Regions from separate parts of the Homo sapiens genome. Here all the other regions are linked to region 3. Evidence: fine-mapped expression QTL. A gene starts in region 3. Each other region holds a variant in brackets. All regions are shown on one strand. Distances are from middle to middle.

Region 1 (8,000 bases), 29 kb before region 3:
TTGGCCTAACAACTTGTTCAAATGAAGCTTTCTCCAAGTGTCTGCTGGGTGCTAGGGAGCTATATTGGTAAATAAAGCTCTGCCCTCAAGGAACTCTCAGTCTATGAAGTTACAGTGAATAAGCAAACTGCCATAATAGAAGAACATACGAGAGCTGTAGAAGAGCACAGAAAAGAAAATAAGTAATACTACCTGGAGAAGTCAAGAAAAACTTCAGCAAGGAGAGGGTATCTCAAGTGAGTCCTGAAAAATAAACAGGAAATTGCCAAGTAGACAAGGCTTGTGAAATGAACACTCTTGACAATGTGAGCGAGTGACAGGATAACTGCATACAAACCCTGTGTATCCAATCAGGAGGATTTAATGACAAAGGACTCTCCAGAAGCCCTCTCTGCATCATTAATTAAAGCCCTGATCACACTGCGATATGATTATCTGCTGATGGCCCTCCTCCGGACAGCCCCACCTGTCACTGCCCCTGGAAAGCTCACCCCAATCTGGATGCGGTCTCAAGCCCTCAAGCCAAAGCAGGGCTTCCCAGGTACAGTTTCCAGGCTCTACCAGGGTCTTGGCTCAGAGAAGACATAGCACTGCCCTCATGTGAAAAGTTAATGAAGAAGGAAGGATGGAAGCCAGATATTCTTTATATTATTTCAATAACTTACATAGGGGTAGCATGCTGATTACAAGTACAGTCCCACACTGCATAATGATGTTTCAGTTGACAACAGACCACGTATACAATGGTGGTCCCATGAGATCACACCATATTTTTACTGTACCTTTTCTATGTTTAGGTACACAAATATTTACGATTGGGTTACATCTGCCTGCTGTATTCAGTATAGCAACATGCCACACAGGTTTGTAGCCTAGGAGCAATAGGCTATCCCACATAAGTGTGTTGTAAGCTATACCATCTAGGTTTGTTTAAGTATATTCTATGATATTGGCACAATGATGAAACTGCCTAATGACGCATGTCTCAGAATGCATCCCATCATTAAGCAATGCATGACTGTAACTGGAAGCTCCCCTATGATCCTGAGGTTCCAGGGAGAGAAGGGGTTCTCCCTGGAATGTGTTCTAAGCTAAGCCTTCCAATGCTCTCCTGGGAATGCGCTCTAGGCTAAGTTTTCCAATACACAGATTTACATGGGGAAGGTAGGTTACTGGTGAGATTAGAAGCCTTTATTTTTCAGTGAAAGCTGGGAGTCCAGAGATGACAGTAGAAGGCACAGCCAGCTCGTAAATCAGCAGCATTCAGGGCTCTGGACAGCCTCTCTATCAGCAAAGCAATTGATGCTTCTGCCAGGGAGGCTGCAAAGAAGCTGTTCATCACTACCTCATTTGGAGACTTGACACCCAAATGGAGGCTCTAACAGCCAAGTTCATAGATCTGAGCAAAGCGCAGAGGCGTCAAATCTGTGTACACCAGTCTGCTAAGTCTTCAAGGGCCCTGAGGGGCAGGCTCTTCTCAGATGCTGCTCTGACTCTCTGAAGGCCTTTACAACCAAAATGAAATGAAATAACTTAAGTCCTAGCTCAGGGGCAGGTTGAGAGAGACCCTCAACATGGCGATGTCAGGTACTTTGGGCCAAAAGAGAGACCCAGGAAACTGTTGCCATTGTGTTCTCTACCTCTGTCCCTCTCCAGCTGGGCTCGAATTGTCTCGTTCTCAGTGATGTGAGTCCACATCGTCTTATCATGGTTCCCCTGTACAGCCTAGGTCTTCATCTTCCCAAAAGCCATGGGAAGCAGACTACTTTTTCCAGAACAGCTAACTGACTGTGCTCAACCTTTATGACCCAGTTCAAACAAGAGCCCCTCTCTGAAGCTTCCCTCCAGGCCAACTCCAACTGAGTCCCTCCCTTCTTGGCCCCATAATGCTAAACTGACAACTTGGCTATGGCATTTAAAGCTTTAATAGTTCCTATATGGATTGACAACAGTATATGCAAATACTTCAAATATATACGTATCACAAGTTTGTGCTTGTGACTGAGAATCTAAAATGGCCTCCAGTGATCCCTGCCTGTCTCCAGGCATTCATGCCCTTGTGTAATTGCCTCCCCTAGAAGGTAGGCAAGACCTGTGACTTGCTTCTAGTCAATAGAAGATGGTAAAGGTGATGACCATCTCTCCTATGTTTACATTATATAGGACAGCAACTTCCATCTCACTATCAGACTCGATTGCCTCTCTCTCCCTTTATGGCTTTGATGAAGTGAGTGATCATACAGAGAGGCCCACGTGGCAAGCAACTGAGGGTGGTCTCCAAATGACCGTCAGCAAGAAGGCCCTCATTCTACGAAGCCACAGGAATTGAATCCTGCCAACAACCTTGTGAGTTGGGAGGCAGATCTTTTCCCAGTCTAGACTTCAGGTGAGACACCAGCCCTGGCCAATGTTTTGACTGCAGCCTTGAGAGAGAATCTGAAGTAGAGGAGCAAGCTAAGCTATCCCCACAGTCCTGCCCCACAGAAACTGTGAGAATGTGTATTGTGGTAATACCACTGGGCAGCAATAGATAATTAATACAGCACGCAAACTCTCAGCTGATAAGACATGCAATCAAAGGAGTGTGGAGACTGCTACTAAACACCTCTAGACCCGCAGAGGAAGGCTCCATCAAACAGCCAAAGGCTAGCAGTGAGAACCTGCACGTTTTAGTGGTAAAAAGAACATTTGTCTAAAAAATGGGAAAGTGAAAAACCTCAAAAATTGGCTTCCCAAGACTTAGATATGAGTCCCAGCTCTGCCTCTAAGAGGTAGGTGATCTTAGTCAGCCCAGATTTACTCAGCCCAGCCTTCTCATCTATACATACAATGTGGTCAAGAGGGCCAGTAAGAGTGGCCAATGAGAGAATAAACTAGGAAATGTTTTGTCAGGCCGGGCGCGATGGCTCACACCTATAATCCCAGCACTGTGGGAGGCCAAGGTGGGTGGCTCACAAGGTCAGGAGTTCGAGACCAGCCTGGCCAACATAGTGAAACCCTATCTCTATTAAAAATACAAAACATTAGCCAGGTGTGGTGACGGGCACCTGTAATCTCAGCTACTTGGGAGGCTGAGGCAGGAGAATCTCTTGAACCCGGGAGGCAGAGGTTGCAGTGGGCCAAGATTGCGCCACTGCACTCCAGCCTGGGCGACAGAGTGAGACTCCACCT[CA/C]AAAAAAAAAAAAAAAAAAAGTGTTTTGTCAAATGGAATGTGATAGACACATGTTAGTTTGCCCCAGAACTCTGGGGTGGCCTTGGGTAAGGCACTGTCCTCTCTCGGTCTCAGCTTCCTTATTGTAAAATGAGGAGGGAAGCCCATGCTATTTAATGTCTCCAAGGGCTCTGATCTTCTTTGATTCTAACATCGCATACCCATGAGAAGAGAGGAAGAGGCGAAAGTGGTAGACTATGACATTTTACAATAGTTCCCAGTCATTCTACTGGCCAGGGTGACTGTCTTACCATTAAGGAACTGGAAAGCATTTGACCAGTCATATCTAGTCAACCTACAGGGCCTACAACCTGGATTCCTCAACTAAGAGGGAAAATCCCCATTTGTTTTACAAAAAGGAAAAAATGATCAAGGTAAAGTCAGTGGGAGCCACCAAACATAAACTACTGACGCACTCTGAGAGTGGCAGTAGCTTTGATTTTATTGCTGAGCACCTTAACTATGTGCCAGGAGCTTTTATAAAAATAATCTCCAACCTTCACTACAATCTTATATAGTTTGTGTCATTCTTATTGTAAAGACAAGTTAGCTGAAGCTCAAAGAGAGTAAGCCCCTTACCCAAGGCACATTGCTAGTACATGGTAGGGCTGGGATTTATCATTATTATTATTAGAGACAGGTTCTCTCTCTATCATCCAGGCTAGAATGCAGTGGCACAATCACAGCTCACTTTAACCTCCATCTCCCAGGCTCAAGTGATCCTCCAACCCCAGCCTCCCAACTAGTTGGGACTACAGGAGCATGCCACCATGCCAAGCTAATTTTTTGTATTGTTTGTAGAAACGGGGTTTTGCCGCATTGCCCAGGTTGGTCTCAAACTCTTGAGCTCAAGTGATCTGCCTGCCTTGGCCTCCCAGAGTGCTGGGATTACAGGTGTGAGCCACCATAGCTGACCTGGGATTTAATTGTAATTTTATTTAATTCTAAGCCCCTGGTTTTTGCACACATCTCATGCCTCTGGGAGAGAGCAGCTTGGACAGAAAGGACAGTCTGTGATTACACAGCAAAGTAAAGGTTCTTGTCCTGCAGCAAGATCATGTGCAGAGTGTGGCTTCATTTATTCATGCCACAAATATTTACTGAGTGCCCTATGTATACTAGGTTATGTGGTAGGCAATGAAGATATAGAGTAACACCATGCCTTGTTCTTGTCGAGCTGAGCCTAACTGGGGAGACATTGTAGTATACAGTGGACAAATGAATGAATAAATAGCCGAACAAATTAATGAATAGGCAGATGGACACATGATTAGTCAGCCATTAGTGTTTCAAGCACCATGAGAGTGATACTTAATACAAAGTGTAATGGGATCACCAGATAAATTATATGACCAGATAAATGGCCGGGCACGGTGGCTCACGCCTGTAATCCCAGCACTTTGGGTGGCCGAGGCAGGTGGATCACCTGAGGTCAGGAGTTCAAGACCAGCCTGGCCAGCATGGTGAAACCCCATCTCTAATAAAAATACAAAAATTAGCCAGGCAGTAGTGGCACCCACCTGTAATCCCAGCTACTCAGGAGGCTGAGGCAGGAGAATCGCTTGAACCCAGGAGATGGAGGCTGCACTGAGCTGAGATCATGCCATTGCACTCCAGCTTGGGCAACAAGAGCGAAACTCTGTCTCAAAAAGAAAAAAAGAAAGTAAGAAAAAGAAAAAAGAAAAAACCACCAGGATTGTTATAAAATGGAACAAACCCATATTGTGTTCTAGGAAAGGGTTCAGGGAGAAGAGAGTCCCCTCTACTGGGACCAAAGGCAGGAGCTCCTCTTACAGAAGAACCTAAGAGCTCATGTTATCCAACTCTATAAAGCCAGTATCATGTGGATTTCAAAACAGAGGACTTCAATAAGAGGAACACAGAAACACAGACATGCACATGCACAAACCCACGCTGAACTGTGCAGAAGGATGAAAGGGTCTGGCCCTCTGTGCTTAAAGCTAACACTAACAGAATTGATACACCTGCCCATGTTTTATGGCACCACACAGCAAAATAAAAATAGAATCTCTTACTTTCCTCATTAGCTGGACTTGGCTGCAGCAACTGTTTGGTTTGGAGTAGCTGTAGTTGTTGGGAGATGGTCCATCTCTGGTGCATCAAAAAAGTATGCCTGTGGGGAAAAAAAGACCCAGGAGGGAGTTAAAAAGACAGTGGTCCGGGTAAGTGTTTTTTTAGACTCCATGCTAACAGTACTTTTGGACTCTCACAGCCCCTAAGTTCTTCCTACCATATTTGCCATCACACTAAACTACAACCATCTCTGTTTACGTTTGTCTCACTAAATTGTGCATACTTTAAAAAATTTAGCTATCATGTACTGAGCACTTACTATATTACATGACTTACTCTTAATAACCCTATGAGGTTGTTAGGATTATCCTCATTAGACAGATAAAGAAACTAAGGCTCAGAGAGACTGTCATTTGATCAGGTGAACATGGCTAATGAGTGGTGAAGCCAGAACTCAAAGCTAGGTCGGTCTGACTCCAAAGCACAAGCTCTTAATCACAACATTATACAGTCTTTCCTCCAGGGCAAAGACTTCTTCATCTTTGTGTCACCAGCACCCCTGCACAGGGCCTGGCACAGTATGTAACCAATCAATACCTAATGAACTGAACTACATTAGCTTGCTGCTAAACTAGTTAGTTGGCTTTCTGCAAATACCTTGAAAAGAGAGTGCTAGGCATGCTTTCCCTAAAAATTCTTCAGCTGGGAAATGAAAGGTTTGCTAAGTGCTTCCACTCACCATCTACAATTTAACGGTCAAAAGTCAGAAGGAGGTAAAGGAGGGAAGACATAAGGTCTAGAGAAGCCTAACTTGAGCGAAGCCAAACTTGAGCCCAGGAAAATACCAATCTCACTACCCTTGAATACTGGTTGTTCAAAGGAAAGGTGAATCTGTTACTACATCAAGGCTCACTGAATGTTCATGATACCCCCTTGGGGTCAGTGCCCTTAGGAAGGTACACTGTTGGAAAGCCAACAACCATTTTTCACCAGCTCTGCTCTCTATCAGCCAGAAGGGGGCACCAACACAACATGTTGGAGCTCTCCCCTACCTGTTGCTATTCCATGTTAACTCTTTTTGAAAAGTTTCCAGATGATGTCTTTCTCTGCAGACTCCCTCTAGTTTGCCCCATTCCCAAAGCAACTCTATTACTTTTAAGAGGCTTCCTCCTTAGGAACCCTTCCAGCAGCTGTTTTCTGGGGCAAGGAAAGAAGAGTCCCTAACTTAAGTGGGGGATGGGGCCACAGTGCTAGTGCTGGGCTCCTCCAGTTCTCCCTCAGGTACACTGTGCCACAAGCCCCCAGGATGCAGGAACAAAGCCTTTCTTCCAGGCTACTGCAGGGTGCCCTTGTAAGACAGAATGAGCAAAGAGGCCCAGCTTCTACACCTGGCTCTGCTATTAGCTCACACTGTGACTTTGGACAAGTCGCTCCACCTGCTTTGGCCTCAACTTTCTGATCTATAAAATTAAAGGATTAGAAAAGATGATCTTGGGGCTGGTGTGGTGACTCAAGAGAGAGAGAGAGATTGGGTGTGGTGGAGAGAGAAGGAAAGAGAGTGAGAAGGAGAGAGAGAAGGCAGGCAGGGAAGGAAGGAAGGAAGGGAGGGGGGAAGGAAGGAAGGAAGGGAGAGAGAGAGGGAGGGAGGGAGGGAGGGAAGAAAAGTAAATAAGATCTCAGCTGGGTGTGGTGGCTCACACCTGTAATCTCAGCACTTTGGGAGGCCAAGGCAGGTGGATCATTTGAGGCCAGGAGTTCAAGACCAGCCCGGCAAACATGGTGAAACCCCACCTCTACTAAAAATACAAAAATTAGCCAGGCGTGGTGGCACATGCCTGTCATCCCAGCTACTCAGGAGGCTGAGGGACAAGAATTGCTTCAGCCCAGGAGGCAGAGGTTGCAGTGAGCCTAGATCACACTGCTGCACTGCAGCCTGGGTGACAGAGGGAAACTGACTCAAAAAGAAAAGATGATCTCTTAGGGCCATTCCTTGAACAATCTTGAATTCTATGATTCATTAATTCCAAAAATGCTTAATAACAATCACAGCCATCATTTGGGGAATGCCTACTGTGCACCAGACATATACTTGATCATTAATCTGCTCAAAAGTGCTGTAACAGGCCATTTTATCCCTTTTAAAGATGAGAAAGCTGAGGCTCAAAGAAATGGAGATTTTCCCAAGGCTAGACAACTATGTGTCTGAGCTAGGATTTCAATCCAGTCGAGTCCATCTCCATAGTCTGTGCTCTTCTAATTCTCCAACACTTCCTGCAATTTGGCACCTAGTCTATGTCCGGTCCGGATCTAGGCACCGTGGAGACCTCAAAGCTGAATCAGCAGGTTCTCTGTGAGTAGGGGTAGGGCACAGCTCCCTGTAAAAGCCAGCAGTAACCACCTCAAACTTAGGCTTGTACATCTCCAAACATACACCAAGGGTGCAGCCTCTAGGTGCTTCCTTAGTCATCCCTGCCAGTGTGTTCTTGTATAACTTAGACATCATTTACATGTGCAATCACCGAGGGGTCCCTGGCAAGTGTGGGGCTGTTATATGCTTCACTGCACTAAGGCAAAAACACCAATCCGTGTTCCCCAGGGGAGAGTGAGGAAGCCAAGCTGTCTGGTTCAGCCGGTGCCCCTCAGCTCAAATAACTCCCCTGCCAGTTCCTCTCTCTGCCCTAATAATAATGTCTTCCATTTACATGACTCGTCATATTTTCCATGCTGCATATATCATTCAATCCTTGCAACGTAA
Region 2 (10,494 bases), 240 kb before region 3:
TCCCATCTGGGTTTAGAGGGATCACTCTGGTGGTCTGGAGCCACACATGTGGTGGGGACTGCCACGGGGAGAAGCACAGAGGCCACACGGTGTAAGGGTCAGGGAAGTCCTGGCCTGAGAGATGCAATATATGTGGGAGGGGAAGCAGAGAAGGCACCTCGGGGAAAGGGAGGGTTCCTTGTTTCTCTGCATTGTGACAGATGATAACCACAGGCCCGCATGGTGCTGGATACCATAACCCAAAGACAACGTGGTCCGTTCCCATCACAGCAACCACACGGGTGTTGCCTGCAGGAAACCAAGCTGAGCAAAACAGACACTGGCCCCAAGGGGCAGGCCTCCCCCAGGCCAGTTCAGGCCCCAGCTGAAAGATGACGCAGAGACCCACACAGGGTTAACCAGGAGCCACTACAGAGAGTGAGAATCTAGCTGTGACCAAGCCAGTCCTGAGCCCAGTCTGTCCTCCCTTGTTCCCCACTGCCCCCCAACCCCACTGCCACCCAATCCCAAAGCCTCATGACCCCAGCAGGGCCTCTGAGGCCCCATGGAGCAATGGCAAAGACCCTGGCGTCTGGGGGCAGAGAGTCCAGTGTCCATGTCCCAACTGCACATCCCGTGAGGACCTGGCCAGCCTACCTCCCTGTCAATAAGCCCCTTCCAACCCTAGAACCCCCCACACCCAGAACAAGGAGTGGGGCAGGGGCAGCCAGTGGACATGAAAACGAGGGTAAACCCTGGAGGGAGTGGCCGGGGGAGCACATGACGAGGCGGGCCCTGACCAGGAGGCAAGTCATAGCAGAAGGGGGACTGCCAGGCTCTGGGTTGGCCCTGGGTGACCTGAAGGTTTCAGACAATCACAGTCCCTCTTGTGGTCTGGACTTCCTCATGCACAAACTGGGGCAGGGAGTGGAGGGCAGAAGGAACAATTTGGACCAGATGACGCCAAGGTCTTCCAGTTTCTCAGAGTGGTTGACAGCACCGGCCCCTGAATCAAAGGATTGAAACTAGGATCTGCCACTGGTTAACTGTGTGACTTTGAGCCAGTCCTTATTCTGACTGAGCCTCAGTTTCCTCATCTGTAAAATGAGTCAATAATACCTACACCCACAGAGTCATTCTAGAGATGAAGCCACACCAGCCGATGCAGAGTACCCACATGACACTGGCCACACTCTCCAGCATTACACTAAGGGAGCTGCGGGCTGGCAGGGCGATGGCATATCCAGAAAGTGCCAGTGGGCTCCACCAGTCCCACCCTCGTTCGGAGGTGTCCCCTCCCTGCAGGCTGCTCTCCTTCCCATCTCCCATTGGCCCGCAGGGTGGCAGCAGCCGTCTGGGAGGCTGGACTGAGCCGCCACTCTGAGAACGCCTGTCCCTCTCGGGGCTGGCAGGAGGCACCCCATAAATCAATCAGTAAATTCCAAGCAGATGCGCACAGGCTGTTTTGGTTGGAACCCTGGCCCTTTTCTGTGGTTGCAGCGAAACCAGACTCTCAGGTGATTCACAATTTGACGGAGGCCTAGAGCTGGATCCACCAGAGGGTGACGATAATATTTTCTTTCCTGTCTTACCTCGGAGACAGGGTGGGGCTTTTTTTTTCCAGCCCGCTATCCTGGGCCGACAGCATACTCAGGTTTACTCAGTGAATATTTATAAACCTCCAGGCTTGGGAAGCCAGTCTCAAGGACCAGGAGCACTGCTGTGGGCTTCAATGTATGCAAACCCTTCTCCCCCAGGACTATACTCCTCACAGCTGCCCCGAGGTTCTGCTTTGCCACTGAGGAAAGTAGGCAAATGTGGATGTTGTTTAAAAGCTGTGGCTTTGCTGCTAATAGTCCTGGGTTCAAATCCCAAGTCTGATACGTCACTGAGCCTCAGTTTATACTTCCACAGAAACAGGGATACTACACTTAACAAACACGAGCATGGTGAGATTTAAATATATATGAGGTGCTTCCATAGTGCCAAGCACATTTTATTCATTAAGTTGTCACTATTATGATTATTATGATTGCTCAGAGAAGGGACATACTAGCCCTAGGTCACAAAGCAGTCAGAGGAGTGCAGGTGCCCTGTGCAGCAGGATGGGACAACCCAAAGTCAGAGGTGGGGTACCATGCCTGGCATCACTGAGCCAGCTAGCTCCCCAGGCAGCCAGGGTCAGGCAGGGCAAACACTACCTTGCCTTCCGGAGGCTCCACAAAGCCCCTTTGTGAAGAATGCCCAGTAAGAAAGAAAAATACCCAGGGCTGCATCCACAGCAAATTAGTGGTTTGACTCCTTTTGGTTGTAACCAAATGGGAGGAATATAAAAAGGCTGGGAGCCAGGTTTAAAAGCAGGCAAGTGACTCTACACCGTTGTTGGTGAAAATCCTGGCCTGTCCCTCCCTGGGTCTCAGTTTTTCATCTGACAGCTGGGGGCTGGACAGTTGGGATCCTCAGGCCCCCAGCACCCCGCTCTCCTGTGGAGCCTGGATCTCCTGCCTGTAGGGTGGCTGTTTAGAGTCTGACAGCAGCAGCCATCCACTGAGCACCTGCTATGTGCTGGCCCCTCTCTGAGCACTTCACTTGGACTGTCCTCCACTCCTCCCCAGAGCCCTGTGACAAGCGCTGTCACTGTGCCCATCATACAGAAGGGGAAAGTAAGTAACGTGCCCAAAGTCATCAAAGAGGTAAAGCCAGGATTTAAAACCCAGGCAGTAGTCTGGGATACTACATTAAGCCACTCTGCCACTCCCTCCCCTACCCCATGCCCCTTTCATGCATGTGCACACACACACACACGCTCATGCTTGTACTGAGGCAGCTCCCGGAGTCTGGGCTTGGCTGAGATGCACAGCAGGACTGCGAGATTAAGAAGACGTGGGGGAAAGGAAGAGCTGAAGGCACACTCTTAGGCCTCTGGAGGGAACAGAACCGGGGACTTCAAAAGCACAGGGAGACAGGCCCAGCTGATGATGGATGGTTTAAACCTGACCCTGGGGCAGAAATGTAGAAAAGGGCCCATACTATTGCCTGGCAGCAATGAATACCTCCATAGAGAGAGTCCCTGAATATCTTGGGGGACCACGGGGCAGGGTCTGCGGTGTTGACTCTTCTTGGAACCATCAGAGTGCCCAGTCCAGGGTTTGCATACAAAAGGTGCTCATCCTCCAGCTGAGTACCTGGGCTGGACCTTGGGCAAGTCCTTACTCTTTCTGAGGCTGTTTCCTCATCTGTAAAATAGGGATAACAACACCTGCCTCATAGGGTTGTCCTAGAGATTAAATGACAGTGGATGACATTCCCAACAGACAGCAAGCTCCCCTGGGAAGGAACAGCTTTCCTACAGTGACATCCCAGTGCCTGCCGTAGGAGCTCCAGCAGTCTGGGGAGGAGGAAAACAGGTGGGGCCAGAGGAACCTGAGCACTCTGAGAAGAGCCTCAGGTGCAAGTTCTGGCTATATCACTTGCTGACTGTGTGACCTTGAAGAACTCACTTGCCCTCTCTGGCCCTTGGGCTCATCACCTGAAAAATGTGGGTGAAAAACTCTGGCCCGTGGGTGTGGGGTTGTCACACAGAGATTGGGGGCCTAAGGGCACTTTGTGGATGATGGAGCCTTGAATAAACAAGGACAAGTAGGTGAGTGGTACTGACGAGGGCGCACCAAAAAGGGGCCATCTTGGTGGTGGAGGGTGGTTTCTTAACACGCCTTCCTGACACCCGACACCTCTCCTCAAGCTTCTTGGGAAGGAACGGTCCATCTGTCCATCTGTGCTGCAAAAGCAAGGGAGTTCAAGATCACTGGGTGCTCTGTGCTGGGAACCTCCACAGCTTGCACATCATTTAATCTCCAGCCCCAGGTCTCAAGCTGAGGGCTGTCCCATCCCAGGGCCGCTGCTCTGTGCCTCCCATCCTGGGCTGACCCCGAAGCTCTCCCTGACAAGAGTGTCTGCTCCCTGACCCCACTCCACTCCCAGGCACTGCCAAGTGTGGGGCCTGGAGGCTGCTCCTGGGGCCAGCTGGCCAGGCCAGGACACCTCAGTGGTCCAGCAGGCCCAGAGCTTGTGGGGCCAGGCCACACCTACCCTGATGAATCCCAAGGCAACACACTGCCCTGTTTCTGTTCCCCATTACGAGGACTGGTGCCCATCAAATAAATCAGGCTAATGGAGTCTGATGAACAAAGATTCAGATGGTGGGACACTGTAATTATAAACATCAGCAGCTTGGCAATCTGGGATCAGGGGAGCTGTCTTGCTTTGATGGAAGGCGAGCACTGGAGAGATTGTTCTGGACATTACAGGCAGGAGAGGCTGGGTTCCCTGCACCTATTTCACACTACTCTGCAGTGCTGTCAGAGTTTCAGGTTGCCACGCAACGATAAGGCCTTCCACCTCGGGGCCCTGCCACAATACGCTGCTGGAATGGCTCATAGTATCCACACCGCCATGCCAGTCAGTATTCTCAAGACTTTACAGAAGGTTTGTTCTGTTGGTGCTAATGAACGCCTGTCTATCCTGTAACACCCAAGTCAAGTGCTACCTCCTCCAGGAAGCCTTCTGGGTATCTCCTACAGTAAAGCACTTCTTCCTCTGTGCTGTAGGACTTGCCTTCCAGCCTCACATGAGCTAAGCTCTCTCCTTTCTTGTGTCTTTGTGTCTGCCATTCCCTCTGCCTGCAACACCCTTCCCACTGCAGTTTTAACTCCACTCACCCGTCTTGTATCAGATTCAACGTCACCTCCTCCGGGAAGTCTCCCTG[A/T]TCTCCACCAGGCTGCCCGGCCTCCCCAGTTCCCTGCACTGTAACTTAGTTCACATGTCTGTGTCCCACCCTTATCTGGAAGCTCTCTGTCCCCAGTGCCCAGTGCAGGCCTGGCACCAAGTAGGCAATTCAGGAATTGTGAGCTCAAAACAACTCAGGAATTGTGAGCTGAGGAAACGTGTTCTATCGCTGTCAAACCACCACAGGGCTGGGACAGTCTGAGGCCTGCAGACTGTGGTCTGAGTCCTCTGAGTCCCGTCTTCTCGGACTAACAAGACCCAGTTCCTAGTTCCCGAACAAACGAAACCACCAAGGTCTGTTGTGACCCAAAAGTGGAGGGCTTCATATGGAAGGAATCAAGAGGCACAAGGAATCAAGTATCCATTGGAGCAGACACTTTATTATCCAGGCCATAAACCTGATTTACACTTGGGCCGCTTCTCTCCAGCAGCTCTGTAAAGTTTTAACGTTGCCCCAGCAAGCCCTGGGAACAAACCTTCAGAGCAGCAGGAAGAGGCCCATTATGACTTTGGTTGGGGGCAGTAGTGTTCCCAGATGCTCTTGTCCTCCAGGTAACCCTGCGGGTGGAGTCACCTGAACTTGACCTGGAGTGAGCCACGGGCTGAGAGCCTAGAGACCTGGTTCTAGTTCAGACTCCATCATGCACAGACAGTGTGGCCTTCACAAGCTATGTGTCCATCTGGGCCTCAGTCTCCCCACCTGTACAATGACCATGGGGAGGGAGCAAGGAGGCAGACTCAGTGCTAGTAACCAAGGTCACAGCATAACACGGCAACTATAGCTTCAAGCTGTGGCTTACTAGCTATGTGACTTGGGCAAGTTATGGAAGCTCTCTCTGCCTCACTTTCCACACCACGAACATGAGCGAACGGCGGGAGGGTGAGGCCTCCTCCTACCCCAGGGCTACGATGAGCACCAGGGGTTAACTGAGAAGCCTGTGGAGCAGCACCCCCGGGGTCTCCTAGCACTTCAGCCATCGGGGGCTGACAGGAGGAAATGAGGCCCTTCCAAACTGGTTGTCCAAACGTCCCCCAGTAAGCTAGGGGGTACAGAGTGTAATCCCCACACGATAGAAGAGGAAGATGAGGCTCGGAGCCAGGGGCTTACTCTCTCTGTAATCCAGTGAGCTGGGAGCCCAGCCCTGGCCTCCTAATGCCAAGCCTGGAGTTCTTTCCCTGATAAAGAATGTTCCAGGCCAAGTTGTTTTGAAAGGAAGGGGCAAAGTGGGGGAGGGGAGCAAGGCTCCATGTTAGGGTCAACTCTCATATTCTGGAAGAAGTCTCTACAAGACACCATTTAGGGTCAGCTGATTTGCCTCTTTCTCTCTGTCCTACCACCATCCCAATCACCAGCTCCCACTGCAGCTAGGCTGCCGGGTCACCCTCCCTCCACTTGGCTCTGCCCCAGAGAGCCTCTGACGGCCCAGCTAAAACTGTACCCCATCCTGTCCACCTCCAGCCTCTCACTCTGCCATGATAAATCACTATTTATCATACAACCTGACATAATATTGATGAATTTTTCTTCATTAAACAAATATTATTGTTATTCACAAACAAATTCATTAAACCTATTAAATCCTGGCTGTCATAGATGTTTGGGAGAAGACAGTGAACAAAACAGACAAAAATCCCTGCCCTCCTGGAGCTTCCGTACAGAAGAGGAGGTGACTCATAAATAACAAACATGATCAATAGGTCAAACATACGGCCTATTAGAATGGGAAGAGTTCTTCAAAAACAACTGAGTAGAGTAAGGGGATGGGGGTGCTGGGGTAGGGCAGGGTGCTGAAGGTGGGCACCACAGAGTGGTGAAGGGTATGCCCAGCAGAGGGAACAGATGGGACCAGGGCCCGGAGGAGGCAGTGTGCTGGGCTGGAGAGGAGGAAATTAGAAGGAAAGAATTAAACGGTGCATTTGGGGGGCCCCGGGGTCCGGCATCATCCCACAGGCCACAGAGAGGATCCAGAATTGCATCCTGAGTGCCACAGGGGCTCACTCCACAACAGCAAGTATTATTTGCAGAGGAGCGACAGATTCCACTGGTATAAAAGGATCACGCAGGCTGCTGTGCTGAAAGCAGACTGTCTCGCTTATTTGTTGGTTTACGGTTTATCTCCTCCACAAAAATCTAAGGTCCATGAGGGCAGCACTTAATCTGAATTGATCACTATTATCTCTCCTCAGTGCCTAAGAACAGGGCTTGGCATGTGCATAGGAAATGTCTGTGAAATAACTAAACAAACGCACGCCAGCCACACCGGCCTCCTGGCTATTCCGCACTCATGCCAAGCACAGTCTGGCCTCGGGGACTTTGCAATTGATGTGTGCGCTCTGCCTAGAATGCTTCTCCCCCCCAGACATCTGCATGGGTCCTTCCATATTTCGGATCTTGATTCACACATTGCATGAACATTGGGGCCTTTCCTGGTCGTGCTATTCCAAACACGAAATAGCCCTCTCCAACACTTCCTGTCTCCCTTCCCTGCTCATTTGTTTCTGTTTCACTTGTTACCAAATGACACACTGTATATTTCCTGTGTTTCCATCTGTCTCTACCCACTAGAAGACAGGCTTCTGGAAGAAGATGTTGGTCTATTGTAGTCACTGATCAGTCCCCGAAGTCTACAACAGTTGTGACACCCAGCAGGGGCCTAGCAAATGCTTACTGAATGGGGAATGACTCCTCCCGCTTACTCTCTTATCCATACTCAGCAAGCAGGATGGCAGGCCAGGGTGATAGGGGATGGCCGAGGGGATGGCCTGCCCAACAGCAAGACCCCCTATGAACCACAACCCTTGGGGTACAGGCCAACATGGGAAGAAGGGCTATGCCATCTGTGCTAAGTTGTTTCATGGTAAGCCATCTCCTGGTAACCACAAGTAATAAGTGTTTTCATCTCCATTGTACTCAAGAGGAAACACTGGTGCTCAGAGAAGCTAAGTAACTTTCCCAAGTTCATAGAATTTAGGGGGCAGCAGAGCTGGATTTTCAAGAGTCTACCTGACTCCTTGCTTGCAGGAAGTAGAGCTGGGCTTTCGTGGTGTCTACCTCACTCCTTGCAGTTCTTATTCAATCAAAGCCTTATTGACCTGCCATGCCATGCCTGACCCTGCACTAGGTCCTGAGGAATGCAGCAGTGAACAAGGGGGGCAGGGGCCATATTCATTCATATGATGAATATTACAAAGAAGTGAAAATGAATGAACTAGAGACACCTGCAACATCCAGCAACATAATGCTGAATTTAAAAAGCAAATCTCAGTATACCGAATAAAGTTCAAAATCCACTAAAATGGAATATATTGTTTAGGCACACATAGACACGTGATAAAAACTATTTATTTGATTAAAAATTATTTTAAAGCAAGAGAATGACAAACATAAGATTACCTCTAGTGGGTAAGCAGGGATGAAAGAAATAAAATATATAAGAATTGAAAGGAATAAATAAAACTTATTATTCACAAGTGATAATCAGAAATCAAAAAGAATCTAAAAACAAACTAGACCATTAAAAAGTTAATTTGACAAGGTCAGTAGATATAACAGGAACACTCAAAACTCAATTATATACTTATCTACAATAAACAGTAAAGGGAATTTTTTAGATATCATTTATGGTAACATAGAATAACATCAAATACATACGGATAAATCTAACACAAGATATACAAGACCTCAACAAAGAAAATTGCTAGACAGGCTGGACATGGTGGCTCACACCTGTAATTCCAGCGCTTTGGGAGGCTAAGGTGGGTGGATCAGTTGAGGTCAGGAGTTTGAGACCAGCCTGGCCAACATGGTAAAACCCCGTCTTGACTAAAAATACAAAACTTAGCCAGGTGTGGTGGCGCACATCTGTGGTCCCAGCTACTTGGGAGGCTAAGGGAGGAGGACTGTTTGAACCTGGTAGGCAGAGGTTGCAGTGAGTAGAGATCACACCACTGCATTCCAGCCTGGGCAACAGAGCAAGACTCTGTCTCAAAAAAGAAAGAAGAAAGGAAAGAGAGAGAGAGAGAAAGAGAGGGGAAGGAAAGAAGGAAGGAAGGAAGGAGAAGGGAAGGGAAGGAAGGAAAGGAAGGAAGGGAAGGAAGGAAGGAAGGAAAGAAGGAAGGAAAGGGAAGGGAAGGGAAGGAAAGGAAGGAAAGGAAGGAAAGGAAGGAAAGGAAGGAAGGGAGGGATGAAGGAAAAGAAAATTGAGATAAATTAAGGAAGACCTAAATGAATTGAGAGATAAGCCATATTCATGGGTCAGAAGATTCCAAATGTGAATTTAGAAATTCCAAATTTATCTAGAAGCTGGAAGTTGCAAATTTTTCTTCCCAAATTTATCTAGAGATTCAGTGCAATCCAAATCAAAATCCCAGCAGGTTCTTTTTGTCTGTGGAAATTACCAAGCTGGTTCTAAAATTTATATTAAAATTCAAACAGCCAAGAATAGCCAGGGTGATCCTGAAGAATAAGGTAGATATCAAGACTTATTATAAAGCTACAGTAATTAATGTGAAACTGGCACAAAGATAAACAAATAGGCTAATGGAACAGAACAGAGAATCCAGAAATAGAGCCATTTATTTAATTGATTTATGGTAAAGGTGGCCCTTCAGAAAAGTGGGGGAAGGACAACGTGGTCAATAGAAGCTGCTGGCTCAATCGGATTTCTATACAATGTCGGAAAAAAGAAACTTGACACCTTCTGCACACCAAACATAAAAACCAAATCCAGAGAGCCTCCTCGTATTTAGATGGACTATACATCTAAATACTAAATGTAAAACAGCCAAGCTTCAAAAATAAGCTTGTAAAAGAAAATTGTATAGGAGACTATTTTCACAATTTGAGATAAATTCACAAAGATTTCTTAAACAGGACTCAGAAGCACTAACCATAAAAGTAAAGATGAATAAACTAGATTATTTTGAAATGGAGAGTTTCTACTCATCAAAAGACATCATTAAGAGAGAAAAAGGGCAAGCCACATCTAACTAACAAAGGGCTTGGATCTAGAATACATGAAGATCTTCTACACGAAAAAAGGCAAACAACTCAATTAAAAAAAACTTCCCCAGACACAGTGGCACATGCCTGTAATCCCAGCATTTTGGGAGGATGAGGCAGGAGGATCACTTGAGCCCAGGAGTTCAAGACCAATCTGGTCAACATGATGAAACTCCATTGCTACAAAAAAACAAAAAATTAGCCAGGCATGGTGGTATGTGCACCTGTGGTCCCAGCTACTCAAGAGGCTGAGATGGGAGGATCGCTTGAGCCTAGGAGGTGGAGGCTGCAGTGAGCCGTGATTGCGCCACTGCATTCCAGCCTGAGCAACAAAGTGAAACCCTGTCTCAAAAAAAAATAAAAATTAAAAAAAAGACTTGAATAGGCACTTTACAAAAGAGAATATTCAAATGGTCAAAAAATATATGAAATGATGCTCAACATCATTAATCGCCAGAAAAATGTAAATTCAAACCACACTAAGACACCAACACACACCCACCAGAATGGCTAAAATTTAAAAGACAAGCAACATCGTATGTTAGATGGGGAGCAATGGGAACTCTGCTACTCTGCCAGCGGGAGTGCTAAAATGGTGCAGCCACTTTGGAAAGCTGTTTAGCATTATATACTAAAAATGAACATGGTCACATCCTATAGCTCAGCAGTTTAATTCCTACATATATACCCAATAGAAGTACACGTATATGCACATCCTAAGACATGTA
Region 3 (10,372 bases):
TTTTGTACTTTTTGTAGAGGTGGAGTTTCACCATGTTGCCCAGGCTGGTCTCGAACTCCTGGGCTCAAGTGATCTGCCCGCCTCAGCCTCCCAAAATGCTGGGATTATATGCGTGAGCCACCACGCCTGGCTCCAAGTGTTATCTTTCCTACATAGCAAGGACAGCATCAATATCTCAGGAGAGAGGCTAAAACAGAGGGCCATGAAGGTTCTTTCCTACTCTAATATTAGAAAATATTGAGCATGGGAGTCCCACATTCCATAAGCTAGGATCTCTGCTCACTACCCCAGTGTTCCCCTCCACAAGTGTACTTACGGAAAGTAATGGTCTGTTTGCCTGTTTCCCCCACCAAGGAAGAGGCCATGTGTCATTTACCTCTGAGCTGTCATTGCCTGACACTGTACCTGGCACACAGTAGACAGTGAATAAGCACATAAACAAGCTTTAAAAATTGTTTAAAAAATATCTCAAAGACAAGTTCAAACCTCAGTTTTGTCAGAGTCATCATTTCCCAGTAACTCATCATCTTCTTCTCTTCCTGAGCCTCTTGGGGATCCTGGCTGATGTTTTGGGGTTTCACCAGGATCCTCAATGTTTACTGTGGTGGCATCTGGGTTTGCTGTCAGAGAAGTGGCTGCATTGCCAAATTCTGAAATCAATTAGAGCACACGGGCCTCAGAAACCTTACCCACACTAGAAATGCTATACTTTGAATTTAAAGACAAGCTGTCACAACCTCAGCTTTGCTATAGACCCTACCTGATACAAAGGGCAAAAGCTTTGAAAAACAAAAAATCTCATCAGGAGATCAATCTGATATAGAAAAATGACTATGAAGACAACAGAATTTGGAGTCAGACCTAGATTTTGGTTCTGGCTCAGCTAGCCACTTACTAAATACACAAGCCTGAGTAAGTAACTAAACCCCTCTAAACCTCAGTGTTTTCATCTGTATCATGGGGAGAATAACATTTATTTTAAATAATTTTGGGAGAACAAGGAATATAATCTAAGTCCTAAACTTTACTTCTTTGATTCAAGTCCAAAAAATTTTAATGAAGGTTATTTTTTCCAGTAAGTCTACATAATCACTACAGAAAATATGGGAACAAAAATGAAAGTGGGATCAGCTGCGCACAGTGACTCACGCCTGTAATCCCAGCACTTTGGGAGGCCAAGGCAGGCGGATCACCTGAGGTCAGGAGTTCGACCAGCCTGGCCAACATGGTGAAATGCTGTCTCTACTAAAAATACAAAAATTAGCCGGGTGTAGTGGCACATGCCTTGTAATCCCAGTTATGCTGGAGGCTGAGACAGGAGAATCACTTGAACCCAGGAGGCAAAGGTTGCAGTGAGCCGAGATCACACCACTGCACTCCAGCCTGTGTGACAGAGTGAGACTATGTCTCAAAAAAAAAGGAAAAAAGAAAGTAGAAATCACAGGATAAAAACCACTCTTAGGCCAGGCATGGTGGCTCATGTCTATAATTCCAGCACTTTGGGAGGCCAAGGCAAGAGGACTGCTCGAGCCTCAGAGGTAGAGGCTGCAGTGAGCCGTGATCATACCACTGTACTCCAGCCTGGGCAAGAGAGTAAGACTTTGTCTCAAAAAAAAAAAAAAAAACCCAAAAAACAAAAAAACACTCTTAGTTCTACCACATAAAGGCAAACACTATTAACATTTTAGTATATTTCCTTTTCTTCACATAGTGAGATTCATGCCACTGATGATCATTCATTTATTCAACAAATATTTACTGCATGCCCACAATGTGCCAAGTACTGATCTAGAACATGATACTATAATTAATTTTGCATCCTGCTTTGTCAAGATTATGTAAAATTGGGGATTATACACAAAAATGATTTTTCATATAACAGTCTCTTAAAATGATCACTTATGTGACTGCATAATATTCCATCAATGAAGGTTTTCTTACAAATACAAAAGGAGTGTCTGTGTAGAAAAAGCTTTTTGGGGGGCAGCCTTAAGATGAACACCTATCAGTGTGATCACTAGGTCAACAGGGTGCAAACCATTTTCAAGGATCCTGAACCATGTTACCAAACTGCTTTCCAAAAGAACCTTACCTACTTGTGTCCACCAGCAGTGATTGAGACTTCCTGTCTCCGAATATCCTAACATACTTTATTTCAGCTGCTCTTGAATAAAATTCAGGGCAGCTCTGAACCTTCGAAGGCCAAAGGAAGAGTGCCAGCAGGGCACCATTATAACACTACAAGCAGGGCACCAGTCCTAGCAGTAGGACAGCTGAGTTCACTCTTATTGCCTCTCAACTATATGAGCAGTTTTATGGAGAACACTAAAGTGACTGAAATTAATCAGGTAGCTAATATGCAACAATTACTGAAGCCTCAATTGGCAATGTTTGGGTAGTTTAAGCAACATGAGGTTCTGGAGTGAGATGGTCCTTTGTTCAAGGTAAGACTCTTAATACTCAGTAGCTCCATGACCTTGAGCAAATTACTCCATGGCTCTGAGTCTCTGTTTCTTCAATTATAAAACATAGATAATACCTACCCCACAAAGAGATTTTGAGGATGATGAAATAATAACTATCATTACAGGTACCTCTTATTGATTGTACAGGGCAATGACATTTAAAAAGATAGTCACAACTTTGCTGGAGGGAATTAGACCAAGGAAGATATACTTAACTCTCACAGTTAAAAAGCAGTAGTTAAAATAACTAGAAAAGTATAACTGAAGCTGGGCGTGGTGGCACACACAAACTGGTGGTCCCAGCTACTTGGGACGCTGAGGCAGGAGAATCGCTTGAACCCAGGAGGCAGAGGTTGCAGTGAGCCGAGATCGCACCACTGCACTCCAGCCTGGCAACAGAGTGAGACTCTGTCTCACAAAAAAAGAAAGAAAAGTAAAGTATAACTGGGCTGGATGCAGTGGCTCACGCCTGTAATCCCAGCACTTTGGGAGGCTGAGGCGAGCAGATCACTTGAGGTCAGGAGTTCGAGACCAGGCTGGCCAACATGGTAAAAACCCATCTCTACTAAAAACATAAAAATTAGCTAGGCATGTTGGTGGACACGTGTAATCCCAGCTACTCAGGAGGGTGAGGCACAAGAATCGCTTGAAATGGGAGGTGAAGGATGCAATGATCTGAGATCATGTCACTGCACTCCAGCCTGGGTGACAGAGCGAGACTCGGTCTCAAAAAAAAAAAAAAAAAAAGAGAGAAAAAGAGTATAATTGGATTGTTTGTAATACAAAGGATAAATGCTTGAAGTGATGGACACCCTGTTTACCCTGATGCAATTACTACACATTACATGCCTGTATCAAAATATATGAGTGTACCCTGTAAGTATATATACCTACTACATACCCATGAAAATTAAAAAATTTTTAAAAAGCAGTAGTTTACCAGGGGGAAGGAATGCCAGAAGGAGGAACAGACAGTACCACTTTAGAAGCACAAAGGTCAAAAAGGCCCCAAGGAGGGCGATAACTCCTCTAGTTATTGGGATCAGGAAAGGTTTCTTGGAGAAGATACCATATGAGAAGGATGGCCAGAGGTGCTGGGGATGGCATCTCATGCAAAGGGAAGGGGATGAGCAAGACCCAGAAGATGGAAAGTGTGCCCGTGATGGAGGGACAGTGACGGCATAGTTTGACTGGAGTGTGGGCTGCGTGTACCCCTAACATGACGACTCTTCACACAGTCTGCTCTGTGCTGGTTATTCTTGTCCATCTCAGCTCCTTGAGCATAAAACTGGTATGTGTCTTATTTCTGCCACCAACATTCTCTGCTTTTACATCCTGGCATATCCTAAGCTAGTTTCAGCCTCTGCTCCTTTCCTGAAACAATGCCTTTCACCTGAAGGCTTCTGACCTCTACTTTTTCATCCAATACTACCGTTCCTCCCCGGAGAAGCCTTTCATGACCCACCCCCCGCCACCCCACCCCCAGCATCCTGTGTGCTTTTCTAAAGACCCAAGTCCTTAACACAGTTGATAAAGCCCTGGGTGATTTGTCACCTGCCTCCTCCTAAGCCTCACCTTGTGTCAGCTTTCCCCACCATCCGTGATCTGGAACACAAGTGTTCTCCCAATCCTTTAGGAAAAAAATTAAACTTCCTCACTCCACAGGGGCTTTTGCGAGGGCCACTGTCTTTAAACTTTCTTGCACTGCACTCCTAGATAGGATGGCTGAGGAGGGTCTCTCTAATGAGGAGAGATTTGAACAGAGCAAAGAAGCAAGCCATAAGGCTATCTGAAGGGAGAATGTCCCACACAGAAAGATGGCACAAACATCCCAAGCTGTGAATGTACTTGGTGCATAGGAAGAACCGTGACAGCCCATGCAGCTTGGGCAGAGACAGAAAGGACGAGAGCAGCAGATGAAATCAGAGGGTTGGAGGCTGCATCATATAGGGGCCTCCTAAGCCACAGTAAGGGCTCTGGCTTTTTCGTTTTTGTGTTTGTTTGTTTATGTTTGAGATGGAGTCTCGCTCTGTCGCCCAGGCTGGAGCACAGTGGTGCGATCTCGGTTCACTGCAACCTCTGGGTTTGAGCAATTCTCCTGCCTCAGCCTCCAGAGTAGCTGGGATTACAGGCGTGCACCACCATGCCCAGCTAATTTTTGTATTTTTAGTGGAGACAGGGTTTCACCATGTTGGCCAGACTGGTCTCGAACTCCTGACCTCAGGTGATCTGCCCTCCTCGGCCTCCCAAAGTGCTGGGATTACAGGTGTGAGCCACTGCGCCCAGCCTGGCTTTTTCTTCTAGTGAGATGGGAGCTACTGGAAGGTTCTGAAAGAATGACATGATCTGCTTGAGTTTTAGAAGGACTACTCTGGCTGCAAAGTACAGACTGTAGAGGGATAAGGGAGGAAGCAGAAAGACCAGAAGGAAGGTAAAGGCTATAATTCAGAAAAAAGGTGACAGTGACCTTGAGCATGGTGAGAGTAGTGGTGGAGGTGGTCAGATGCTAGATGAATTTTGAAGACGAGGTTGACAGTATTTGCAAATTGAGGTGGATTTCTAGTACTTGCAAATGAAATAGATTTATCTTTAAACAGTGTATCTCTTCCTTAGATAACAGAGACAGCATAAGCTGTGATACCAGACTGGATGGGTTCAAATCCTGATTTTATCCCTTACTAACTGCGTGACCATTAGGCAAATTATTTTTCTGTGCCTCAGTCTCCTCATTAATAAAACAGGGGAATAAAGTAACTATTTCATAAAGTTGACATAAGGATTATCTGTACAGGATTTAGAACAGTGCCTGACATATAGTAAATGTTAGGTAAGGTGTTAATAAAACAAGTAAGTGGGCCAGGCCTGGTGGTTCATGCCTGTAATCCCAGCACTTTGGAAGGCCAAGATGGGTGGATCACAAGGTCAGAAGTTCGAGACCAGCCTGGCCAATATGGTGAAGCCCCGTCTCTACTAAAAATACAAAAATTAGTCGGGTGTGGTGACGGGCACCTGTAGTTCCAGCTACTCAGAAGGCTGAGGCAGGAGAATCGTCTGAACCCGGGAGGCAGAGGTTGCAGCAAGCCAAGATCGAGCCAAGGCACTCCAGCCTGGGCAACAGAGTGAGACTCCATCAAAAGAAACAAACAAACAAACAAACAAGTGTTCATCAATCCCTAGCCTAAGTCAGGCTCTGGGTTATGAGTCCTAATATCTCCTTGAACTTTTCCTCCAGCACTTTCATAGTTTGTAGGTATATATTTAAATGATCATTTAATAAATACATGTCCCCCTCACTAGACTGAGAGCTTCACAAGGAAACTATTTTGTTCACTCTTCTATCCCTGATAACTAGAACAATTGCCCGGTTCCTGGTCACAACCAGGAGATATTTACTGATTCAATGAGGGAATGATCTGATCACATTTCATCCTAATGATCTTTTTACATTTTTATCTACTCCACCAGTGGATAAACTTCTTCATCTTTTTGTCTCCAGTATCTTGTACGGTTCTAAGCACAAAGTAAGTGCTCAATAAATGTTTTCTGAACTAAAGCAGGAACTGTGTAAGCATTTTCTGTAATCACTGTACTAAATTTATGATACTCGTTACCAATCTGAAGGGTTATCTGGCAAAAAAAACAAAAACAAAAACAGCTGGTGTGGACAAACAGGAAACACCTGGATGTGGCCAACAGCCACCAAGATGTTTGAAATAATATCCTTCAATGTGTGAGGCAGTATAGGAATGAAAATACTTGCTGTGACTGTAGCAACAGTGATCATAAATATAAAGGTGGGCACCCAACTGGTATACCTTCAAATTGCAAGTCATCTACTGCTGCCATTCGGCCAGTGAGTCTTCTCCCAATTATGAGGAAGAAAATTTGCAGGGTTCTAAAAGAAAAAAATAGGTAAACATAATAGGATGACAGTATAAAGTATCTGCAAACAACTCTTATGTATTAGAAATGGTATCACTTTCCCTTGCCTCCCTTTTCAGTGGGGTTTAATAGGTTTATATAAAGATAACCACTAAGCATCAGGTATTATTAAATATTAAAACTGTAACAAAGAAACTAACCCCGGGGATCCAAAGGTTCCAATTCAACCTTATTTGGTTGTGTATGTACCAGGAATGAATCTCAACTCACTGTGTGAATGTTTAGAGAGCAGGTGCAGCCTAGAGATGTAACGATGAGGAAGGAGAGGCTGAGGTTTGAAAGAGGTGATGGGGACAGTGAAGAACAAAGGCAGTTCAGCCTAGCCAGTGGTTAAAGGCACAGGCTCTGGGGTCAGACAGAGCTGGGTTTGATTCCCGATTCTGCTGCTTCTCTGCTGTATGCGCGCTCCTCGCGGCCTCAGTTTCCTCATCTGTAAAATGGGTGCATAACGATACCTAGTCACACAGTGCGGGGGTCATTAAATGGGAGTGCGTGTAAGGAGCCTAGAGCGGAGTCAGGCAATTAGTAGGCAATGGGGTGTCGGCGACCCTGCAGCCCGGGACACCGCGAAGCAGAGGCAGTGTTTCAGGGAGAGGAGCTGGGCCGCGGCGGCCCGGGCGGGCAGGAGATCCTGAACCCCCTTAGCCTCGTACAGGTCCCGCAAACTCGGCAGCCTCACCTCGCGGGGTTAGGCGTCCCCCGGGTCCCGAGAAGGCTCGGGCCTCAGTTGCTCCGCGCCGGTTTCGGTCCAGCCCAGTTGCCGGAAGCCGGAGATCCGGGGGGCGGAACCTCTCCGCCTCCTCCGGGAAGAGCCCCGCCTCCTTAAAGAGACAGCAGCTCCCAGAGAAACCTGCGTGCTGCGGCGCGCAGAGCCCGCTCCCGCCCGCCCTTCTCCCGAGGCTGAGCCTCGAGTTCTTAAAGAGACAGGCGAGGGCGGAGTGGTGGGGTCGCTGAGTGTGACTACTTGGGCTGGCCTTGCTCCAGGGAACGTAGAAAATTCTCGAGTTTAGGGTTTTCTTACTGTGTGTTTATACCTCTTTTCCTAAGGAAATATAAAATCGGGTGATGAAAGACGATTGTGAAAGAAAAAATTAAGTCACCCGCGTCACCAGTCCCTCAGTTTCTTTTGGCCACAAAAATTTCACTGGTGAGAAAGTACATGATGAGTCAATTACATTCTGAATGAGTGATCGAAAGCGCGATGTCTGTTCGTATGAGCACCCCCAGTAAGTGAGCGCTTGGAAAGACTTTACATCTAATAATAGCCATATATAGTGTATTTTTTTCCCCAAGATGATCATGATCAGGCTTTGTACATGCAGGATCTCTAATTCTCAGAACAATCCTGCTATCTTGGGGTGATTATCCTCATTTTACAAAGAGAAAGCTGAGGCTTAGAGCATGTGCAGGGCACTTTTGGTTGAGTATGTACCAGGAATGAATCTCAGTTCATGAATTCAGCTGTGCTAGTATATCAGCCACCTCTTATGTCCCATTTCAGATCATCTTGGCCTCACCTGCTGCTTATTTCACCGCCACTCATCTTATTCCAGCGTCAGCAGATATAACCTGAGTGAGCTTGCCTCCAGTCTATGCCTCAGGCTTCTCACTTTCTGCTTCGAGGCTTGTTTCTTCATGCGATGGGGCCATGGGACCTTGCTGGAGCCAATCAGCACCCAGACAGGTGCATCCCAGAAGTGTAGGGGTAGAGAGTTGTTAATGTCTCATGAGGCAAATCTCTGACCAATGGGGTCAACACTTGATGAATATATGCTTTTCCTGTTTTTCCCCCTCAGGCGCCCTTTCATATAGCTTTCAAACTACCTAGCAGGATTAAGCAACCAAATGCCTTTGGAAGTGACGCATTTGACAATGCATCTTCGCAATGGGTCTCCTTCCTTCCCTGATATACAAGCCCTGTACTTCACTCCTGGTGCTTGGATTCATACTTGCCAATAAACTACTCATATGAGGAAGCAATATGAAGGCATGTTGGTACCAAAAGTGGCCCCAGAAAATAAAACCTTAGGTTGGCATTTTCTAACTGAACTGCGCACCAGTCACATGGCAACAACAAATATATTGCTGGTGTTAAGGGGAGAGAGAAGGAGGGGGGTGGTGGTGGTGTGATAACACTTAGAATAGAATGGCATCACAATTACTAAGGTGTCTGTCTGCAGTTGATTGGGATAACGTGCAGGTAGAAGATAAGGTGCTGAGTTATCTAGTGGCTGTGGCACAGGAACATTAAGAGGACAATGGTAATTATAAGGACTATGGAATGGACTGGGTGTTCTTAACTCCATTGGAAACCTTGAAAATAAAATGACAGACTTAGAACAGCCAACTGTCAACTTGAGGCACTTTGTGAAAGCTAGAGAGCCTCTATGGCAGCTTTGAAGATTCTTATTCTTCTATAGCCTTGAGAAAGACTGGACTGAAAATCAGGCCCAAGATCTAATTGTAAGGGTGGCAAAGTTTCAACGAAGACTGAATGCACAGCCTCTGTAGGTCTCCTCCATCAAAGCTGGGGCATTGTCAGAAAATGAATGGGAACCTGAGAACTGGGATGAGGATATTTGGGTAGGAAAGCCTGAGACTTGACCATCCCTCGTTTCCAGTTTCCCTTGAATCTTTCAAGGGAAAGGTGGCTGTGGCAGAAGTAGTCCTTTCCCCCTTGTTAAAGGAAAGCAAAGTCCTCTTGCTTACGGATCCTGCAATGATTACCTGCACAACATTGCTTTGGACTAAGGGACCAATTTAATTGTAAAGAACATGCAACAGTGACACATAACCATGGGTCTTACCCACTGGTCTTACCATGTGACTCAGTCATCCAATAGTAGGTGGCCTAATAGGATGGTGGAATGGCTTGTTAAAGGCACAGTTAGGGCTCCAGGTTGGGGAAAATACTCAGGAGACTGGGGCATTGTCCTCCGGCATGTAGTACATGTACTAAACCAATGGTTTATCAATTATTTATAATGGTACTTTGTTCTAAATACCTATAGATTTGCAAACCAAGGGGTAGCACTTCTTACTATCACTTTCAGTGAAACCTACACACATAGAATGTGTGCCTCCTGCGTCACAAGTTTAAGTTCTGCTTGGTTGGAGATCCTGGTCCCAGGGAAGCAGGGAAGGCGGAGAGAGAACACTTCCATTCCAGTTACAGTTCCACTGAATTGGAAGCTGTAACTACCACTTAGGCATTTTTGGCTTCTCATACCACTGCACCAGCAGGTAAAGAAAAGAGTGCCGGCTGGGCGCGGTGTCTCACGCCTGTAATCCCAGCACTTTCGGAGGCCAAGGTGGGCGGATCACCTGAGGTCAGGAATTCGAGACCAACCTGGCCAACATGGCGAAACCCATCTCTACTGAAAACACAAAAATTAGCTGGGCATGGTGGCACACGCCTGTAATCCCAGCTACTTGGGAGGCTGAGGCAGGAGAATTGCTTGAACCTGGGAGGCGGAGGTTGCAGTGAGCCGAGATTGTGCCACTACACTCCAGCCTGGACAACAGAGCGAGGCTCTGTCTCAAAAATAAATAAATAAAGAGTGACACATGGTGGGGAAAATCAGCCCTGATTACTTTAAGAAGTTGGGGGCTGGGCATGGTGGCTCATTCCCATAATCCCAGCATTTTGAGAGATCAAGGAAGGAGGATTGTTTGAGGTCAAGAGTTCAAGACCAGCCTGGGCAACATAAGGAGAAGCTATAACAGTCACAAAATTTGCCGGGTTTGGGTGGCACTCCTGTAGTCCTAACTACTCTGGCTGAGGTGAGAGGATGGCTTGAGCCAGGAGTTTGAGGCTGCAGTGAGCTATGATCACACCACTGCCCTCCAGCCTGGTGACAGAGGAAGGAAACCCCGTCTCAATTATTTAAAAAAAAAAAGGTCTTGGGTGTATTTTAAAACACTTCCCAACTCTGAGCTCTATGATTCTTCTTTCAGTTTCTCCA

Which allele goes with the higher level. Alleles are on the strand shown, and positions count from the first base shown. SD is a standard deviation of normalised expression in the study named. Not every link is listed here.
For the expression in lymphoblastoid cells of the gene that starts at base 7,171 in region 3, T is the low allele of the variant in region 2 and A is the other (large effect, 1.2 SD a copy in GTEx).

The links. PIP is the estimated chance that this variant, and not a neighbour inherited with it, causes the effect.
Region 1: its variant is fine-mapped to the expression of YIPF1 in whole blood (INTERVAL, PIP above 0.99).
Region 2: its variant is fine-mapped to the expression of YIPF1 in lymphoblastoid cells (GTEx, PIP 0.97).

The regions. Positions count from the first base shown.
Region 1 is chr1:53,854,809-53,862,808 of GRCh38, forward strand. It overlaps YIPF1 (Yip1 domain family member 1), which reads right to left. Exons shown (of 11, transcript NM_018982.5): 10 at 5,248-5,345. The coding sequence ends at 5,256. Among named protein-coding and RNA genes, the nearest start is that of NDC1, 21 kb to the left of the region's middle. The variant CA/C (reference allele first, on the strand shown) is at 3,172.
Region 2 is chr1:53,638,059-53,648,552 of GRCh38, forward strand. All of the region lies in intron 2 of GLIS1 (GLIS family zinc finger 1), which reads right to left. Among named protein-coding and RNA genes, the nearest start is that of GLIS1, 96 kb to the right of the region's middle. The variant A/T (reference allele first, on the strand shown) is at 4,745.
Region 3 is chr1:53,882,627-53,892,998 of GRCh38, forward strand. YIPF1 (Yip1 domain family member 1) reads right to left here and starts at 7,171. Exons shown (of 11, transcript NM_018982.5): 1 at 7,087-7,171; 2 at 6,618-6,837; 3 at 6,281-6,360; 4 at 487-650. The coding sequence starts at 6,311. RefSeq lists a silencer at 5,930-6,224 and an enhancer at 7,110-7,404.